3 linked regions of the Homo sapiens genome follow. The protein of the gene in region 2 interacts with the protein of the main gene of each other region in a pairwise test. Each region holds a gene or a part of one and is shown on either strand. Other genes may lie near its edges.

Region 1 (7,025 bases), about 21 Mb from region 2:
TGCCTGCTGGGTTCAAGCAATTCTCCTGCCTCAGCCTCCCAAGTAGCTGGGACTGCAGGCGCCCGCCACCACACCCGGCTAATGCTTTTTGTATTTTTATTAGAGATGGGGTTTCACCATGCTGGCCAGGCTGGTCTTCAACTCCTGACCTCGTGATCCACCCGCCTTGGCCTCCCAAAGTGCTGAGATTACAGGCGTGAGCCACCGCGCCCGGCCTAATTTTTTCTATTATTAGTAGACATGCGGTTTCACCACATTGGCCAGGCTGGTCTTGAACTCCTGATCTCAAGTGATCCACCTGCCTCAGCCTCCCAAAGTGTTGGGATTACAGGCATGAGACAGCATGCCCGGCTTTTGCTTTTTTTTTTTTTTTTTGAAACAGGGTCTCACTCCTGTTGCCCAGCCTGAAGTGCAGGGGAGCGATCACAGCTAACTGCACCCTCAACTTTCTGGGTTCAGGCGATCCTCCCACCTCTGCCTCCCAAGTAGCTATGACTACAGCCACATGCCACCACACCAGGCTAATTTTTGTAGAGACACGGTTTCGCCATGTTGCCCAGGCTGGTCTCAAACTCCTGAGCTCAAGGGATCCACCCTCCTTGGTTTCCCAAAGTGCAGGGACTACAGGCGTGAGCCACCATGCCCAGCCAGAAGCCTGCTCTTTACCACAGCTCTAAAGAGTGCCTGGGTGAGGGAGTTGGTACCCAAGGCCCCAAACTAGGTGACCTGGACACTCACCTCAGAGTAGGTTCTCTTGACCCCCTGTCGGGGCAGTGGCTGGGCCTGGGGAGGCCCAGGATACCCATGTTGGGGCAGACGCTGCCCTGCATACAAGGGTGTCATTCCTGCTGCCCGGGTGGGGTTCATAGCCAAGGGGGAGAGGCCAGAGGGGCCCATTACCCCTCCTATGCCAGTAGGGTTCATGCCAGCGGGGACACTAGGCCCCCGGGGACCTCCATGCTGCAGAAACTGGCTGTTAAAAGACTGTCCGGCCCCCATCTAGGAAGAGAAAAAAGAAGAATGGTCCAGGTCCCACCCACAAAGGGCTCCAAAAGATAGGCATAAAACCCGCCCACCCACCCATGTGGGCACCATACCCTTTCACAGGACACCCCAGAAACCTCTCCCCTCAGACCCTCACTCCTTCCCACACATCTCTCTTTTACTGGCTTCATGAGCCCTGGCATATTCCATGCTTGTCCCTGGAGCCCACTGTCTGGCTGAGTACCTCCTCCCAGGCCCTCAGGCTGGCTGCCATGTGGGAGGAGCTGCTGAGGGGGCTCACCGCTCCATACTGGCTCAGCTCCTGGCTCTGCTTCTCCTGGAGAGCAGCCACGGTGGCTGTGGCTGTGGCGGTGGCAGTGGCTGCCGCAGCAGCCACAGCTGCAGCAGCTGCCGCTTGCGTGAAGTCAGTGGAGGGTCTTGCAGCATGTGAGGGGAGGCCCAGGCCCCCCGGGCCGCCTGCATACCTGCAGGAGACACAGGATTGCCACGCTCTCTGCGTGGGCTCATGAGGGCCAGGACTGTGCTCACCCCAGAGGCATGCAGCACCCAGGGGGAGCCCATTCTTTCTAGACCCTCCACTACAGCTGTCAGGAAGCAGAGAGGGAACGTCCAGCTGATCAGCGCCACAGTTCTGAGGTGCCTGCCAGATTGATGGCTCCTAGCATACCTGCCAGGTGAGGGAACTTGCTTACCCGGTGGTGAAGCCGGGGGCCCCAGGGTAGCCCCCGCGGCTGTACACGCCTTGCTGCACGTAGCCCTTGTTGGCGCCGCCTTCAGCAAACGCCTGCTGTCCCAGGCACTGTGGGGAGGTCAAGGCGGAGCTGCCCCCTGCCACACCAGGCATCATGGAGCTGCCAGAGGGACTCCCTGCAGGGCCCATGGGGTTCCCCAAAACCTATGAGGAAGCAGGAATCACCAAAGGGAACCAGCCAAACAACGTGCTTCATGCAGCAGCTCCAAAGTGCTAGAAACCAACAGGCCTGGCAAGTGGGTTGGGGGAGAGGTGGGGGGGACAGGGTATAGCACGGGAAGCAGGGAAAGCAGCTGTCCACAGGGAGGTTGGGGCATTTTGTGAAGGCTAGGTGAAGACAGGAGAAGAAAATCCCACAGCAGGTGTGGAAAGAGAACCAGTGTCCAAAGACTTAGGGGACTCAGGAGGCCCCATCCTCATATGTCATGCCTCAGCCTCTCTGTCCTCACCTCTCAGCCTCTTCGTCTCTCAGAGCTCTGAGGAGGCACTAAGCACTGCCAAGTGCTGGGAGGCTCTGTCTGCTCGGGGGTGGGGCACCAGTGGGTGCTTACCTGGCTCTGTGTCGCGTTGCCAACTCCCCACACAGTAGTGACCACAGACAGCGATCCAGCCGGCTGAGTGGCGCTTTGTTGCCAAGGCACAGACTCATATGCGAATGAACCATCACTGCAGGGAAAGAGGCTGCTGAGGCCTGGGTCAGGAAGCCACTGGTGTCCAAGAGTCTAGGATCTTCCAGAAATGCCACCCCCAACCCCAGGGCCTGAGGGGTGGGCAGAGGAGCCCACACTCACCCGTGTGGCGCAGGGGGCAGGGCAGGTTTCATGGGGTTCATGGAGTTCATTGGCAATGGAGCAGCCTACAGGCCGGGTCTGACAGTTTTTATCTGGAACTCAGCTGCTCTGGCTGCCCGACAGGAAGGAAGGGATGTTAGCTGCGATGCAGCCAGGAGACCCTTTCAGCAGGGTGGAGGGACCCCGGTGCCAGCAGGCCCCACCTCTTTCTCAATAAGGGACCCCTGGGCTCTGATGGCAGGCAAGGCAGTGGAGGGGCCTAGTACTGACCCACCCCACTCACTCTGGTGAGGATCTGCCCCCACAAATACAGCCTGGAGGCCAGCATGAACCCTTTCTGACCAGGCCCTGCCACCCAGAGTCCCTGGATCAGCCCTAGAGATGGACTTCCCGATTCCAAATACTTTCCCCACTCTCCCGCCCACACCGAGGCCTGGCTATCCTTATAAAGCCAGGGACAATCCTAGCTACCCCGTGGAAACTGGGGTTTAGAGAGGAGCCAGTAGCCAGTAACCCCACAGAAGGCCCTGGGGTGAAGGACAGAGGGCAGTGGAGGTGAGGGGACTCCCTGCTAAAGGTCTTGTCTACCCTGAGTAGCCCAGGTAGGGGCATAGGCGGTTCTGGAGGCCAGGGGCTGAGAAAGCCGAGGAGGAGAGTGCAGGGGTGCGGTGATCACAGGAGTGCAGTGGTCAACCAACAACTCTCCATCCTGGCCTTGGGGAGGGACATGCAGGATACCTCCTGAAATGGGGTGTGGGGCCAGTAACCTGGGCTCTGGCTAGCAGCCCCTCCCAACAAGAAGGCCCTCTTTAGGGTAGTAGAAGGGCTCCAGGCCAGGGCACCTCAGAACTGACCCAGATTCCACCAAGTGGGGGCTGCCCGAGGCTGATATGGTCCTAGGGGCCAGGCAGGCAGACCCACTGGCCCATCCATGACACCCCCAGGAGAGGGCAGGGACACACAGCACAATAGATGGAGGGTGGGCACCCACAGACCTGGCAGGGACTGTGACTTGGCCAGTGTTTCTAAGAAAGGGGCTGGGGAGACATTGAAGTGACTCTGCAAGATGGGGCTGAGTGGATACCAGTGACCTGGTGCTCAGGACAGGGCAGCAGAGGGGGTGTGTCAGGGAGGACGCATGCAGGACCACAGTGCTGGCACCATGGGACTTACATGTGCCACGCTAAGTTTGCTCTCCCCATTTAGTAAATAAGCCACGGAAGTGACCACACCTTCAGGCTGCTTCTGAGTGCCACGCCTTCCGACACTGCCACAAGCAAGCCCCTTACCAAAGCAGGCCCAGACATGCCCTGGAGCCCTGCCCCTGAGTGTCCCTGAAGGGCCCTCACTGGCACTACCCTGGGTTCTGACACTCCCAGGACCACCTGACATGTCCACCTCTGCCTGCCTAGGCTATCCACAGAGGAACACTGGCTGCAGCACAGGAGAGGCCGCTTCAGCTGTTTCTCAGGAGTCCCCAGGCATGCTCGCCTTGGATACTACTCCCTTTTAGGGCCTACAAGGCTGCCACACACACAGACATGCCACCTGAGGCGTGCTGACCACTGGTGCCATCCTGCCATCGCAGCACTCACATGGCCTCTCCCTGCCCCAGGAGAGGGTGGCCCCGCATTCATCTAGGCTGCCATTTCTTGTGCTGACCGAGGGCCTCACCAATGGAGGTAGGAACAGCCTCACCCCTCAAAATATAGACCTGGAGATTCTGAGGGCGAGCTGTGTGCCCAGGGCCCCAGAGCAGGTGAGAAGTAGAGCTGAGCTCTGCCTGGGGAGTCTAAGCATGTGGCCTTTCACTGGATCTTCCCATCACCGAGCACTGGGACTGGGGGGTACCAATTAGGGAAGAGGGAGAGGGCAGTGTTCTGGACTTCCTCACACCCTCAGGGGAGGCAAGACTTGATTCCCAGCCCATAGGCTCCTCCCCTTGCTCCCCCAGACCAAGTCCTGCCCAGGAAGCAGGGGTGAAGAAAACCAGGGGCTGATGGCTCCAGAAGGCTCCAGGCACCTGGACTCTAGGCAAGAACAGGCCTGGGAGCTGAGATGGCCCAGCCAGGCAAGGTAGGGGTGGCAATCCCAGTCCCATAGCCTGACTCAGGAATAGTGATGTTGGGGGACAGAGGAACCTGCCAACAGCCAGAAACTCCTCCCCAGAACTGCTGGGTGGGGCCTTGAGCAGCCATACACAGATTTTAGGACTTAGAATATAGATATGGTAATCAAAACTGTGTGGTACCAACATGGGAACAGAACCATGGGCCAACAGGCGAGACCAGAGAATCTGAAATTGATTTGCACAAATAGGCCCAAACAATGTCTGACAAAGGTGCGAGAGCAATTCAAAGGAGGAAGGACAGCCTTTCCAACCAATGGTGCTGGGACAATGGAGCAACTGGGCATCAAAACAACAAACAAAAAACACCTAAACTTCACACCTTATACAGAAAGTAACTCAAAATGGTTTATAGATTTAACTGTAAAACATAAATCTATAAAATATTCAGGAAAATATATAGGAGAAAATCTTTGTGATCTAGGCCAAAGAGCTCTTAGACCTGATACCAAAGGCATGATCCATAAAAGAAAAAAACTGATAAACTGGACTTCATCAAAATTAAAATTTTTCCTTCGGGAAAGGCCCTGCTAAGAGGATGAAAAGATAAGTTACAGGCCAGGAGAAATATTTGCAAGCTGCATATCCAACAAAGGACTAGTATCTAGAACATATAAAGAATTCTCAGCCAGGCACAGTGGCTCACACTTATAATCCCAGCACTTTGGGAGGCCGAGGCAGGAGGACTGCTTGAGCCCAGGAGTTCAAGATCAGTCTGGGCAACAGAGTGAGACCCCCGACTCCTCAAGAAATTTAAAAATTAGCTGGGCGTGGTGGCATGCACCTGTGGTCCCAGCTTTTCAGGAGGCTGCAGTGGAGGGATCACTTGACCCCAGAAGGTGGAGGCTGGGGTGAGACATGATCATGCCACTGTACTCTAGCCTGGATGACAGAGTGAACCATGATTTAAAAAACAAAACAAAACAAAAAAAGAATTCTCAAAACTAAAAAAAAAAAAAATTAAAATTAAAAACTCCAATTAGAAAATAAGCAAAAAACATAAAGAGACACTTTGCCAAAGAGAATATACAGATGGCAAATAAGCATAAGAAAAGATGCTCAGCATCACTAGTCAGTGGGGAAATGCAAATTAAAACCACAGTGAGATATCACTATACATCCATCAGAATGGCTAAAATAAAAAATAGTGACATCACTAAATGCTGGCAAGGAGAAACTGGATCTCTCACACATTACTAGTGGGAATGTAAAATGTACAGCCACTCTGGGAAACAGTCTGGCCGTATCATATGGAACTAAGCAAGCAGCTACCCTACTATGACCCAGCAACTGCACTTGTACGCATTTATCTCAGAGAAATGAAAACTTATGTTCACATAAAAACCTGTACACAAATGTTTATAACTGCTTTATTTGCAAGAGCTATGGAATGGAAACAGCCCAGATGTCCTTCAATGGATGAAGAGTTAAATCAACGGTGGTACATCCATAGCCCGGATGCAATATAAAGGAATGAACTACTGATATATGCAACAACCTGGATGAATCTCCAGAGAATTAATGCTCGGTGGAAAAAGCCAATCCCAAGAGGCTACACGGTGTACGATTCCTTTATTTAGCATTCTTGACACACCAAAATTAGGGAAATGGAGAACAGATTGGTGATTGCCAGGGGTTAAATGTGGGGGTAAAGAGAAAGGTACTAATCTCTTCTCCATTTCTGTAATTTTGGCAGGAGGAAGGTGGGCGTGAATATAAGAAGGCAACAGGCTGGGCACGGTGGCTCACGCCTGTAATCCCAGCACTTTGGGAGGCTGAAGTGGGCAGATCATTTGAGGTCAGGAGTTCGAGACCAGCCTGGCCAACATGGTGAAACCCCAACTCTACTAAAAACATAAGAATTAGCTGGGCAAAAACTAACCGGGCGTAGTGGTGGGCGCCTGTAATCCCAGCTACTCAGGAGGCTGAGGCAGGAGAATCATTTGAACCCAGGAGGTGGAGGTTGCAGTGAGCCGATCGCACCATTGCACTCCAGCCTGGGCAGCAAGAGTGAAACTCCATCTCAAAAAAAAAAAATAGAAGGCAACAGGCTGTAACCTCTTTACTGTATCAGTGTAGTGTCCTGGTGCAATGTTGTACTAGTTTTCCAAGATGTTACCATTGGGGCAAACTGGGTAAAGGACAGAATAAATCTCTCTGTGTCATTTCTTATAATGCACATGAATCTTTAATTTTTTTTTTTTCTTTTTGAGATGGAATCTTGCTCTTTCACCGAGGCTGGAGTGCAGTGGCACGATCTAGGCTCACTGCAACCTCCACCTCCCAGGTTCAAGCGATTCTCCTGCCTCAGCCTCCTGAGTAACTGGACTACAGGTGTACACCACCATAG
Region 2 (7,025 bases):
AATATATCATTATCAAATTATTGAAGACCAAAGACTTGAAAATCTTTTTTGAAATTTATTTAAATTTTTTTTTTTTTTTGAGACGGAGTCTCGCTCTGTCCCCCAGGCCGGAGTGCAGTGGCGCATCTTGGCTCACTGCAAGCTCTGCCTCCCGGGTTCACGCCATTCTCCTATCTCAGCCTCCCGAGTAGCTGGGACTACAGGCGCCCGCCACCATGCCCAGCTGATTTTTTTTTTTTTTTTTTTTTTTAGTAGAGACGAGGTTTCACCGTGTTAGCCAGGATGGTCTCGATCTCCTGACCTCGTGATCTGCCAGCCTCGGCCTCCCAAAGTGCTGGGATTACAGGCGTGAGCCACCGCGCCCAGGCTAGTGAAGTGAAGCAGTAGGAGTAGAGGGGGATAAAAAAAATCTTAACAGCAGCCAGAGGAAAATGACACATTAGGGTTAGAGTGATAGCGGATTAAAATTTTTTTTTAATTAATTATTTTTCAAAATATAGAGATGGAGTCTCACAATGATGCCCAAGCTGGTCTCAAACTCCTGGCCTCAAGTGATCTTCCCGCCTCAGCCTCCCAAAGTGCTGAGATAATAGGCATGAGCCACTGCATCCAGCCTGATCACAGATTTCTAATCAAAAACTGTGACAGCCAGAAGTCACTGAAATGACATCTTAAAAGTTCTGAAGGAAAAGATCAATCAACCCAGTGAAATTATCCTTCAGGAATGAAAGGAAATAATGACATTCTCAGCTAAATGAAAATAAGAGAATTTGTAGCCAAGAGACCTGTTCTCAGAAAAGTGCCAAAGGCAGTTCTTCCTGGTGAAGTAAATGATAAAAAGGACGCAGGGCACTTCAGGAATAGAGAGGAAAAGAAATGATGACAAAAAGACTATTTTTGTTCTCTTAAGTTCTTTAAAATATGTAAGAATACAGAAAGTCAATGTAAAAACACTACTAATAGTATGCAGATTATATGTTTCAATGTATGTAGATTATATGTTATAAATACAACCATAACACAAAAAGAAGGTAAAGAGACTTATATACACCAACTGGTAAAATATTAACTCTGGACTATAAATGGTCAGGCATGCATATTATTAACCCTACTAGTAACCTAGTAGGGATCCCTTCAGTAACTACTAAAAACAAAAATAAACAAAAAGATACAGCCAAAAGGCTACAAATCTTTTTAGCTTTATAGATATAGAAAAAGCAAGTGACAACATTCAACATCCAATCTCAGCAATCTGAACTTCCTAAACCTGGTAAAAGACATTCATGGAAAACCTAAACTAGCATCATACTTAATGGTGAAGGACTGACTGTTTTCCCTTAATATCAGGGACAAGATGAGGATGTCTGCTCTCACCACTCCTACTCAACATCATCCTGGAGGCCCCAGCCAGGGCAATGAAATAAGAAAAAGAAGGAAAAGCCATACAGATGAGAAAGAAGTAAAACTCTGTTTGCAAATACCACGACTTTCTGCACAGAAAATCCTAAAGAATACACTAAAAAAGTTCCTAGAACTAATAAGTGGATTTATCAAGGCTGGAGGGCATAAGATCAATATAAAGTCAGCTGTACTTCTATATCAGCAATCAACAACTAGAAATGAGCACCATTTACAATAGCACGCAAAATTATGAAATAGGTATAAATCTAAAAAAATTTGTGCAGAACCTGTATGCTACACTGTTTTCATGGACTAGAAGGTTCAGTATTGGCGGGTTGTTTTTTTTTAACCTTTGACTGATCTTAAATTATTATTATTATTAAATTTTTTTTTGAGACAGTCTCGCTCTGTCGCCAGGCTGGAGTGCAGTGGCGCAATCTCGGCTCACTGCAACCTCCATCTCCCAGGTTCAAGTGATTCTCCTGCCTCAGCCTCCCGAGTAGCTGGGACTACAGGCGCCCCCGTCACCACACCCGGCTAATTTTTTGTATTTTTAGTAGAGACGGGGTTTCACCATGTTGGCCAGGATGGTCTTGAACTCCTGACCTCGTGATCCACCTGCCTCAGCCTCCCAAAGTGCTGGGATTATAGGTGTGAGCCACCGTGCCCGTCCGATCTTGAATTATTAATATTGTCAAGATGTCAATTCTCCCCCAAAACTGACCTATAGATGTAAGGCAATCCCAATCAGAATCTCAGCAGGATTTGTTCCAGATATCAACAAGTCAATTCAAAAATGTATACATAGGCCAGGCACGGTGGCTCACACCTGAAATGCTAGCACTTTGGGCAGCCAAAGCAGGAGGATCACCTGAGGTCAGGAGTTCAAGACCAGCCTGGCCAATAGAGTGAAACCCCATCTCTACTAAAAATACAAAATTGGCCAGGCACGGTGACTCACACCTGTAATCCCAGAACTTTGAGAGGTCGAGGTGGATGGATCACCTGAGGTTGGGAGTTCGAGACCAGCCTGATCAACATGGAGAAACCACGTCTCTACTAAAAATACAAAACTAGCCAGGTGTGGTGGCAGATGCCTGTAATCCCAGCTACTGTGGAGGCTGAGGCAGGAGGAATCACTTGAACCCGAAGGCAGAGGTTGCGGTGAGCCGAGATTGCACCATTGCACTCCAGCATGAACTCACAAGAGTGAAACTCCATCTCAAAAAAAAACAAACCAATAAAAAAAAAACGGGCTAGTTTTCTTCTCATGTAAACTCTTGATGTATGACGTTTTCAATTTTAAAAGGTTGAACTCATTCCAGACCAAGAAAAGGAACTGGAAACTACAAGAACTCACAGAAGATGATCAAGCCACTTTTGCCTCAAGCAAACACAAATGTCAAAAGACTTCACTGATCAACTTTATAAAAAGTACTTTAACTTGTCAACCCTACTTTTCATCCAATTTGGTCTGAATTCTGGGAGTGGGGTTGATGCGATATGTCATACAAACTGGGACTCCAAGAAAAGATTTTTTTTTTTTTTTGAGACAGAGTTTTGCTCTTGTTGTCCAGGCTGGAGCGCAAGGGCGCGATCTTGGCTCACCGCAACCTCCGTCTCCCAGGTTCAAGCGATTCTCCTGCCTCAGCCTCCCTAGTAGTTGGGATTACAGGCATGTGCCAGCACGCCCAGCTAATTTTGTATTTTTAGTAGAGATGGGGTTTCTCCATGTTGGTCAGGCTGGTTAGAACTCCCAACCTCAGGTGATCCACCCACCTCAGCCTCCCAAAGTGCTGGGATTACAGGCATGAGCCGCCACACCTGGCCAAGAAAAGATTTTTAAACCCCATTAAGATTTGTTCCTCATGGCACATGTATACATATGTAACAAACTTGCACGTTGTGCACATGTACCCTAGAACTTAAAGTATAATTTTGAAAAAAAAGATAAATAAATAAAAAAAGAAGGAAGAAAGGTCTTCTGCATTTACCCATTCAAACCAGGGTTAGTACTTGATTAATATAATATTTCAATTCTGTCTTGTTTTTTCCCCATTTCTACATTATCACATTTCCTTCCTTTCAAAACAATTTAACTTATTTTACTAATATTTTGAGATCAGCTCGTGACATTTAATGTTCTCAATAATTAGAGAAGAATTACTTTGGTTAGCCTAGAATATACTCACTTGTGTTTCTAAATTAGTAAGCTCATTTTCATCTAGATAATGGGAGGCTAGAGAGGTCCTGCTTTAAGAGTAGAACTATTGGTTCTACCAATTTTGGCTTGGAGGCACTGCGTCTGTAAGAACCAAGTGGCCCTGATACTCAGCTCTTGGTGTGAAGTGCTTTGTAAGGTTTATCTGAATTGAATCATTAGGGAAGAAGCAGTGTTAATAACATAGAAATGGTTGGCCCTGTTCACATTAATGGTTAATAAATAAGGTTGCATCATTTATGGCTTCTGGAGTCCAAAAAGGACATCTACACATATTGTTTCCATGAAGACACCACCCTTCACCCTTTCCCCAGCCTTGTGAGTTTAGCAGATGATCCTTATTCAGTGGTAAGGATAATGAAACTCAGAGAGGTCAAATACCTTTTCCAAGGTCATGGTGCTATAAGGGGCAGAAACTGGACTACAGCCCAGGTTCCCCGATTCCAAGCTTGTTATGCTGTGGTCAGATGCTAGCAGTTGGGAGTTAGCAGATATAAATAAACTGTATTTTGGCCCATTTGATTGAGATCTCTACCTATGACCTAAATTTGCCTTCTTTTCCATGAAGCATTTCCATTTCCCCTCACCCGTCTTTTTTGAGAATGTAAATTAATCTCTGCTAATTTTGCAGAATAAGCAGGCAGAGTAATACAGTATCACTAGGATAAATGAACTTTCTTCATTTATAAAAAAAAAAAAAAAAAGATTTGTTCCTTACTCTAGTCCCTATGTCTAACTTTCAGTTGTTTCATCTCCAATACTATAATCCTTCTTTAAATCCAAACCCAGCCGAATATCAATACACGGTTGCTACGAATGTAGCAACTATCATTTCACCATGTGTCACGCTCTTCCTACTTAAGAGATTTACTTACTTGGTCAACTTGTGGCTTTTCAATGCTGTGAGAAATTCTCTGACAATTTCAGGACTCTGGTGCCTGCATGGTGTTTTTGATATGTATTTTAACGTCTGGCAAAAAAAAAAAAAAAGAAAAAAGCCAAGCATAAGACAAAGAACCCTGAATGAGAAAAAACAAAGGCAATGACTGTAATTAAAATTCTAAAATTTTGTTTGTAAAAATCCTGTAGAGGCTGGGCACGGTGGCTCACACCTGTAATCCCAGCACTTTGGGAGGCCGAGGTGGCCAAATCACCTGAGGTCAGGAGTTCGAGACCAGCCTGGCCACCATGGTGAAACCCCATCTCTACCAAAAATACAAAAAATTAGCTGGGTGTGGAGGTGCACGCCTGTAATCCCAGCTACTAGGGAGGCTGAGGCAGGAGAAACACTTGAACCTGGGAGGCAGAGGTTGCAGTGAGCCGAGATCACACCATGGCACTCCAGCCTGGGTGACAGAGTGAGACTCTGTCTCAAAAAAAAAAAAAAAAAAGAAAACAAAAAAGAAAAAAAATCCTGTATAAAACAAAAAGGCATTCAGGAGAACCAATCTTCGTGTAATTGGAATTTCTGAAAGAGAAAACCAGTAGCTAGAAGAGGAAGAATAACTAATGAAATTTTAGGAGAAAACTTTTCTGATCTCAAAAAAAAAAAACCCTCAATCTGACAATTGTGTTATATTTTGAACAATTTTTTTAAAGAGGGGGAACCCAAAGAATAAAATAAATTGCCATGAGTCTACATGGATATATACGACTGAATAGATAAACGGGTAAGAAGAGACAACTTTTTCTTTTTTTTTTTTTTTTTGAGACGGAGTCTCACTGTCACCCAGGCTGGAGTGCAGCGGCACGATCTCGGCTCACTGCAGGCTGGAGTGCAGCGGCACGATCTCGGCTCACTGCAAGCTCCGCCTCCTGGGTTCACACCATTCTCCTGCTTCAGCCTCCCAAGTAGCTGGGACTACAGGCGCCTGCCACCACGCCCGGCTAATTTCTTTTTGTATTTTTAGTAGAGACGAGGTTTCACCGTGTTAGCCAGGATGGTCTCGATCTCCTGACCTCGTGATCCACCCGCCTCGGCCTCCGAAAGTGCTGGGATTATAGGCATGAGACACCGCACCCGGCCAAGAATGAGAAAAATTTTTAAATCACTCTTAGGCAATTGTACCATAGTCATAACTACTGCAGGAAAGACCCACCAATAAATGCTAAAATTGATGGTTAAAAGCTTAAGCAAAGGGTAGGCTGTTTTCCTAGCCGCAAAGCATCTCCCACAAAATATTTTTTAATTACTGTGGTGGTTTTAACATACAACCACAAATTCTTCGATATCCCTCCCTTCAAGAGGTGAAGCTTAATCCCCCCGCCCCGCTTCCCCTTGAATATGGGCTAAACTTGGTAAGTCCTTTCATCTTATTTATTTATTTATTTATTTATTTGAGACAGAGTCTTGCTCTGTCGCCCAGGCTGGAGTGCAGTGGCGCAATCTCGGCTCACTGCAAGCTCCACCTCCCAGGTTCACGCCATTCTCCTGCCTCAGCCTCTCTGAGTAGCTGGGACTACAGGCGCCCGCCACTACGCCCGGCTAATTTTTTGTATTTTTTCTTTTTAGTAGAGATGGGGTTTCACCGTGGTCTCGATCTCCTGACCTTGTGATCCGCCTGCCTCGGCCTCCCAAAGTGCTGGGATTACAAGTGTGAGCCACCACGCCCAGCCAAATCCTTTCTAACATAATGTGGAAATGAAGAAACAGTAGATTTACAGTGGAGAAACCAGGCAGATACCATCTTAACGAAATGACCAAAGTTAACAACATCACCCATAAGAAACATCAATATCATGTACCCCCAGAAATCAGGACACGAGAAGGGGAGATTACCTCTGTGGTACTCTTCCTCAAAAGCCATAGGTTTTGTGTAATCATAATAAAACATCAGGCAATCACAAATCAACAGACATTCTACAAAATACTTGACGAGACTTTGGAAGTGTCAAGGTCATGGAAGACAAAGGAAGAGTAAGGATATAGATTGAATGACATTATGGGGACATGTTAACTAAATACAAAATGGTATCCTGAACTGAATCCTGGAACCCAGAAGACAGCAATGGGAAAACAGGGCATTCAAATAAAATTTAAGTTTAGCTTAATAGTATGTACCAATGTTAATTTCTTGGTTTTGATCACTGTACCATGGTTATGTAAGATATTAACATCAGAGAAAACTATGGGAAGGGTACATGAGAACTCCCAGCACTGTCTCTACAACTTTTATGTAAGAGAAAAATGGCTGGGCACGGTGGCTCACGCCTGTAATCCCAGCACTTTGGGAGCCAGAGGTGGGCGGATCACATGAGGTCGGGAGTTTGATACCCGCCTGACCAACATGGAGAAACCCTGTCTCTACTAAAAATACAAAATTAGCCGGGCAAGGTGGTGCATGCCTGTAATCCCAGCTACTCGGGAGGCTGAGGCAGGAGAATCGCTTGAACCCGGGAGCCA
Region 3 (7,025 bases), on a different chromosome or scaffold from region 2:
CTGGGATTACAGATGTGAGCCACTGCACCCGGCCTGATCATTTTTTAATAACATTGTTCTCCTCCTCCTCCTTTAAGAGACAGGGTCTCACTGTGCTGCCCAGGCTGGCCTCAAACTCCTGGGCTCAAGCAGTCCTCCCCACTCAGACTCCTGAGTAGCTGGGACTACAAACACACCACCACGCTCAGCTAACTCCCCATCTCTTAATCCCTATCCCTACACCATTCCCAAACTTTCCCAAATCAAAGATTAACCAGACAGAGAAAATACACTTTTACAGTTTAAGAAATATTAAATGTGATAACTGTTCAGGATCTACTTTTTACACAATCTCAGTAACGTATGTACATAGTCCCAAAAAAAAAAAAAGCAGCATTTGCCTGGGAACACATCACTATAAGCAAACAAAACATCAAATGGCCTGAATTCTAAAATACCTTTGGATTATATAAAATTACATTGTAAAGTTACAAATGTTGCTCATTCTTGAGAAATGTTTGAATGTTTAAATAATGTTGCCATAATACATATTATTTCACGACATTAAAAAAAACAATGGTGAATACAAGGTATCATCATTTTAAGGGTAAAGAGATAAAGCAAGTACATATACAAATCCACTGGAAAAGCTAAGTTTGGAGCTGATTTCCTCTCTTGAATTGTAAAATTTCAGTAATACACAGTCACTATCTACTGCTGGAATAATGCCTGAGCAATTTAGGTAAAGATACAAACAATAACAAAAACCCTGCCCAAATATTCAAACTTGGAGAATTCTAGTTAAAATAATAGAAAAATATAAAATTTATCCTTCCAAAAAAAGGTATCTAAGACAAAGGTATAGATACCCCATGTAAATTATTCACAAGTCATATGTGAATCAACCTTTTCTGTATTCCTTAAAGTTGTACAATCGACTGATGAAAAAACAAGCTTCATATTCAAAGACACTTTCAGAACACACCTACAATTAACTTATTAATGCTGAAGTATATTTTAAAAAACAGCTATTTCACTGAAGTCTTTACAGGAGATTTTATTTTTGGTGCATCTTCTTACGCATTTCTTCAAGAGCTGCTTCTTTCTCTCTCAGCACCTGCTTAAGTCTTCTTATTTTTTCATCTCGAATGGTTTCTTCTAACTCCGGTGGTGTCACTGGGAAAATATCTTCGGTATAATTTTTATTGAAGAAATGACTTTGTTCATAAGCTGCATTTGAATTCAAAGTGCCTTTCTCTTGCTTCTCATGGGTATAGTATTCCATCTCAGTTCTCTTTTCTTGTCTGGTTTTGCTGTGACTCGTGAGAATGTTATGTTGTGACACATCTGAAGTTGGTAAAATACTGCTTAGGAGTTGGGAACCGGTGACATTAGCTTCCCCATTTATGATTGCGTTATAAGCATTCTCTGTTTTTCTCTTCTTTATGTGATCCATCTTCTTATTAGTTTTTGCTTTTCTTTTCTTATCAAAATTCTGCTGCAATATTGAATAACATTCCAAAACAAAAACGAAATGTTACTGCTAAATGCACCGGGTACTACCAAACTTAACAACGTCTGCAGAAACAAATATCTAGCTATTACAATTAACAAAATTTATGGAAGACAACTACAGCAAGAGGGAAATATTTCCCACTGTATGGTACCAAAATGTCTTAATCATATTCAGTAAGAAGAAATTGCCTAATTCACATTTTCTTGCTCAAGTCAAGTATTAGAAGGCATACTGACTCACCACAGAAATATAATAGCACTTGTAAAGTGCCTGAGATATAAAATTGATTGTTTTTTTCTTTTCCTTTGCACAGCAGGCACATATGGAGGATTTTCATTCGAAAAGGTTTACTAGTCTCTGATCTAAAGTTCAGAATATTACATGATAATGACATACTCATAAGTCAAAGTATAACAGTAGGCAAAGTTATAGACATTTCTTTTTATCATTATTAGCTATATAAGTTGCTTAAAAGGTTATTATTAAGAACATATGCATGCTTATATCTTCTACTACATTTGAATTATTTCCTTTAGATAGAGTCCTCAAAGTAGGATGACTAGTTAAAAAGCTATGGCCATTTTCTTGTAACATAATGGGAAAAAAATGTAGTAGGTGAATAAAAAAAATTAAAACATATCTTTAACTGGGATGCATTTTTACCTGTGCGTGTGTGTGTGTGGGGTGGGCGGTGTTTATATATATATAATTTTTTTTTTGAGACAGAGTTTCGTTCTGTTGCCAGACTGGAGTGCAGTGGTGCGATCTCAGCTCACTGCAACCTCTGCCTTCCGGGTTCAAGCGATTCTCCTGCCCTCAGCTTCCCAAGTAGTTGGGACTACAGGTGCGTGCTACCTCACCCAGCTAATTTTTTGTATTTTTAGTAGAGACGGGGTTTCACCATGTTGGCCAAGATGGTCTCGATCTCTTGACCTCGTGATCCGCCCGCCTCAGCCTCCCAAAGTGCTGGGATTACAGGCGTGAGCCACTGCACCTGGCCTGGTTCTTTTTTTTTTTTTTGAGATGGAGTCCTGCCCTGTCGCCTGGGCTGGAGTGCAATGGTGCGATCTCGGTTCACTACAAACTCCGCCTCCCGGGTTCAAGTGATTCTCCTGCCTCAGCCTCCTGAGTAGCTGGGATTACAGGCAACCACCACCAGGCCCAGCTAATTTTTGTATTTTTAGTAGAGACGGGGTTTCATCATGTTGGTCAGGCTGGTCTTGTATTCCTGACCTCAGGTGATCCACCCGCCTCAGCCTTCCAAAGTGCTGGGGCCTGGTTGTTTTAAATATCATTTTGGTATTATGTATTTGCAAAACCAGTAACAACCATCATTTATACTAATGCACAAGGGTTAAAACCAAATCAAGAAAAGTAATATTCATGTATCATTTGTAGTACCTATGAAGAGCACATTAAAATGTATTACCTACCTGTTTTCTCTCTCCTTCCTTCACCATAAACTCTGTCTCTTTGTAAGTACCACTCTTTACCAAACTGCTAAAGGAATCGAAACCTTCTCCAGAGGTCAAATGGTCAGGAATTCGAGTAAGGCACACTCTCAAATCCTTAGTAAGGCCAAATATCTTTTTAAATTCAGCATCACTCTTCAGATGTAATGCCTTATTACTTCTTCCTTGAGAATCTTTCTTGTCATTTCTTCCTTGGGCACCTTTATCTGATGTTGATGCCATCTCATTATGGATCTGGAATTAGGAAAAGAAAACACACAAACAATACTGCTAATTATTCAAGTTACTTTATTAAGCAACTAAGTGATTATTTCATCTTACATAAAAGAACATATCATGCTTTATGATTGGTTTGTATTATCCTTGCCTTACCACCCACACTCAAAAAACTGAATATAAGGAAGTACAAACTTAAAATATTCCCCCCTACAATTTCTCAATTAATTTGTTGCACTAGAAAGGTAATAAGTAGTCAATTCTAAAACAACTAAAATGAGAATACAGACTAATGACAACGTTAAAATAACATATATGACATTATTTAGAAATTGTAGTCTTCTGGAAAAGTCACACATGCCTTTAATCGATCTTGTATTGAACAATCAGAATTTACCTCCTTACATCTCTGGAGTTCAATGAATTCTGTACTGAAGGGGAGAAATGCTGACATTATTGAGTAGACCTCTAAGTAAGCAAGGAAAAGATGGGTACAAATATCTAGTAAGCACACAGACAGACAAACCTTAAGTCGAACATAAAGGTAACTATGTGGGCATGTTGGGTAACTGGCTGAGGAGTCACAAAGAGCTAATAAAAAGGAAAATGAAATTTGTCTACCAAAAAAAAAATCAACCCATCAAAGATGCTGATAAAATCTTATTTCCACAAATTACTGAAAGGTATTGATTAGCCCTGTCTCACCTTTTCCATGGTATACCACCACCACCACCACAAAAAAACCCCACAAAACCCCAAAACCAACTCTTTTACATGCATATTGATCTCCTCATATACTAAAAAGGCTATTATATATGAACATACATATATACATGTATGTATATACATATACTCACATATTTTTACTAAGCTTTGAATTCACATTATCCTTCCCCAACTCTTCTAAACCTTTTTGCTCTGTGAATTTTTTGTTTTAAAGATTTGGCATGCCAAGTGATTCAAGAGAAAGACTGTACTCCTTTGTACAAGATTGTACCCAACTGTACTCCTCCTCAAATTTGCTCAGATGGAAGTTTTGACTTAAATACTCATATGTGTATAGTCTGTGTGTGATGGGGTTGGCAGTGGGGGAAAGAGGTATCATAGATAACTTTGAGAATTAAGAAAACAAACTTTTCTATATAGATATATAAAAAGAGCACCCTGACATGGGAAAATTACCTTTGGTTCTTGGTCTCTGAAAACACACTGTTGTGAAGTAACAGTTGTTGCATCAACAGAGGAACTTATTTTCTCTATGCTCTGGAGGACACTTCCTTTTCTAGCATAAATGACGGCTGTTACTTTTCTGGGGGCATTGTGTCCTGTACTAAATCCAACTGGAAAGATTGGATTTGTGAATAAAGTCTTACTCTGTTTTAAGTAGTTACTGGATTGGTTCATATGTGGATTTGTGGTAGAAGGAGATGGTTTCTCCACTTTATTCTTCTCTGCCCTTAGATTGGCCATGGAAGCAAGCTGGGTATTGGAAAGTGATTTTGTCTCCATCTGGGAAGATTTACTTTTAGCCAAAACAATATTTACAACCTCTCTGGATATTTCTGTGACTGGACTTGAACTCACTGTCTGTAACGTGTCTTTTCTTACTGGAGTATCAGGAGAAACAGAATTCTGTTGGTCAATTTGTGATGGCAGAACATCTGTCCCCTTTTTAGCCAACAGATAGACTTTCCCATTAAACATAACCAAAGCATTATCTTTAATAGGCATATTTTTGGATCGCGTCCCACTAGGATCGATGGTACTCAATGGTGGCATATTTATAGTATTATCTCCCAAATTTTTCCTATCTACAAAAGTTTTTAAAATCTTTGAAGCCACATTATTTGAAGACTTAACAGGAACAAGAGATGGCGTAAAAGGCTGTAGATTATCTTGGAAAATCCATTTCACTGGAGCAGCTTGAGAATGCTGACCACCTTTCAATTGTGTCTCTGTAGCAACATTCTTTGGAATTTGTGTGGTATTTAGTATTACTGGCTTTGCTATTTCTGTAACAGGTTTTGGGTAAATGTTTTGAAAGTTCTTGGTAACTACATTTTTCACTGTATTTACAGGAGATACATAAATAACGGTTGGCATTTGGGAGGCCTCAACCATTCCTGAGGTACTGGTGGTGGCAGTTGCAAGTATCTTTTGCTGCACTGAAGGAGGCAATGATGACGCTGGTACAGATTTCACTTCAGCATGGGCTGGAATCTGTAAATGATGCCCAGAAGGCAAAACTGGAGACTTCACAGTCACTGGAAGACTCTGGGTATTAACTACAATAAAAGATGAGTCTTTTTGTGTTGAGGGAGGAACAGCAAATGTTTGCATGGTGAGTCCATCAATTTTCACACCATGACTCTGAACTTTAGAAACTGATGAAGAAAAATTTCCAGTTCCCACAGAAGTAACTCTACCTTTTTCTGATGTATCTACTGTTCTTGTAAGAAAATAGTTTGAAGAACTGGCTGGCTGAAAAATGGGCAATTGAACTGATGCACTTGTGGAAGAGCTGGAAATCTGAGTCTGAAAAGTAACTTGAACTGGTTTTCCTGTATTCCCTTTCAAAGCATCAGACATGACTGAAGATTGAACTAGTGGTATAAGATTTCCAGAAGACTTAGGAATTGGAAGTAATTGCAGAAGATTTTTTCCATCCGAGCCAATCGTCTGAACTACTTGGTACATGCAGCCTGAAACACTTAAAAGAACATTGAGTAAATAAATACAACATACTACATGGTATATACATTTTATTTAAAAATAAATATTTGTAAATATTTGTAAATATTAAAATAAAGTATATAATTTTCCATTTTGAGTTTTTAAAGTGAAAGACTGCAAAACAAATATTTTGAAGTAGAAGAGATAATGATATAGTCAACTGCTTATATGATTAGGCAATGGGTATGAGATAATAACATTTATTCCTAAGACTAAAAGTAGACATTTCTAAGGTTTTGCCCTATATAAAATTATACTACTAAAGTAAGCTCCTCTTAAAATATTAGCATCCTCCCTTCCCCCTTTCCCTGAATTCCTTCCTCTTGTCCTCCTCCTCTACTCTAACTGAAGATTCTCATTCCCTCTCCCCTTACTCTTATTCCATTTCTCTCTTTTCCCCCTCAATCTGTTCTGTCTTCTTCCTTCAATAACTCACAAGTTCTGCCAGCCATTCTTCTTTTGCCTAAGCTATCTCTCATGGTGTTACCTTAGTTTGCCACATTTTTGTGCTATAGATTTCACTGAACTGTTTACATAGGAATCATTTTCTTCTGATTACTGTTTCAGCACATTTGAGGTTTAGTGCTACATAGTCTCTGGTATAGCAATTATTTATATTAGTCAATTGTCAATCACCTATCAACCCATACATATAATACCACTGCAATTTCAGCTGAATGGTTTTCAATCAATGTGGAACAGACTGGAAATCAATTTTTTTTAACTGAATCAATTCTGACCCCCATGCCTTGAATTATTTCTTAGTATAGACTGTCTAATCTTAAGAAAAATCAATATATACTAATCTCTGTTTGCATAATTAGTTATTTGGAGATTACTTGAATGTAAATACCTTACCTTATTTATATCTAAAACATTTTTCAGCTCCTGGGAAATATTGAGCTTTCATGTCACACATACTATCACTCTACCTAGGTACGCCTCACCCAACTCAACTCTTCACATAGCTCAAGTCTTGGCATAAATGATATTTCTCAAGAGATACATTTTCTGACCACTTTATCCTTGTCTTTCCTTCATAATTAATCCATAACATTATGCTTGTTAGCTTCCTTCATGGTATATATCATAGATTGTCATCATATATT

What was found. Proteins that work in one complex are often made in the same cells at the same time.
Region 1: the proteins of CRCP (region 2) and ZMIZ2 interact in binary tests that used the Homo sapiens proteins (3 or more experiments, as listed by UniProt).
Region 3: the proteins of CRCP (region 2) and LRIF1 interact in binary tests that used the Homo sapiens proteins (3 or more experiments, as listed by UniProt).

Annotation. Positions count from the first base shown.
Region 1 is NC_000007.14:44,751,822-44,758,846, reverse strand, and holds part of ZMIZ2 (zinc finger MIZ domain-containing protein 2), read right to left. Parts: intron 2,660-7,025; 5' UTR 2,598-2,659; coding exon 2,548-2,597; intron 2,423-2,547; coding exon 2,308-2,422; intron 1,901-2,307; coding exon 1,698-1,900; intron 1,470-1,697; coding exon 1,286-1,469; intron 1,000-1,285; coding exon 739-999; intron 1-738. UniProt on the Homo sapiens protein: Increases ligand-dependent transcriptional activity of AR and other nuclear hormone receptors.
Region 2 is NC_000007.14:66,131,847-66,138,871, reverse strand, and holds part of CRCP (DNA-directed RNA polymerase III subunit RPC9), read right to left. Parts: intron 4,593-7,025; coding exon 4,498-4,592; intron 1-4,497. UniProt on the Homo sapiens protein: DNA-dependent RNA polymerase catalyzes the transcription of DNA into RNA using the four ribonucleoside triphosphates as substrates.
Region 3 is NC_000001.11:110,946,923-110,953,947, forward strand, and holds the end of LRIF1 (ligand-dependent nuclear receptor-interacting factor 1), read right to left. Parts: intron 5,894-7,025; coding exon 4,366-5,893; intron 3,202-4,365; coding exon 2,929-3,201; intron 1,478-2,928; coding exon 1,037-1,477; 3' UTR 268-1,036; downstream 1-267. UniProt on the Homo sapiens protein: Together with SMCHD1, involved in chromosome X inactivation in females by promoting the compaction of heterochromatin.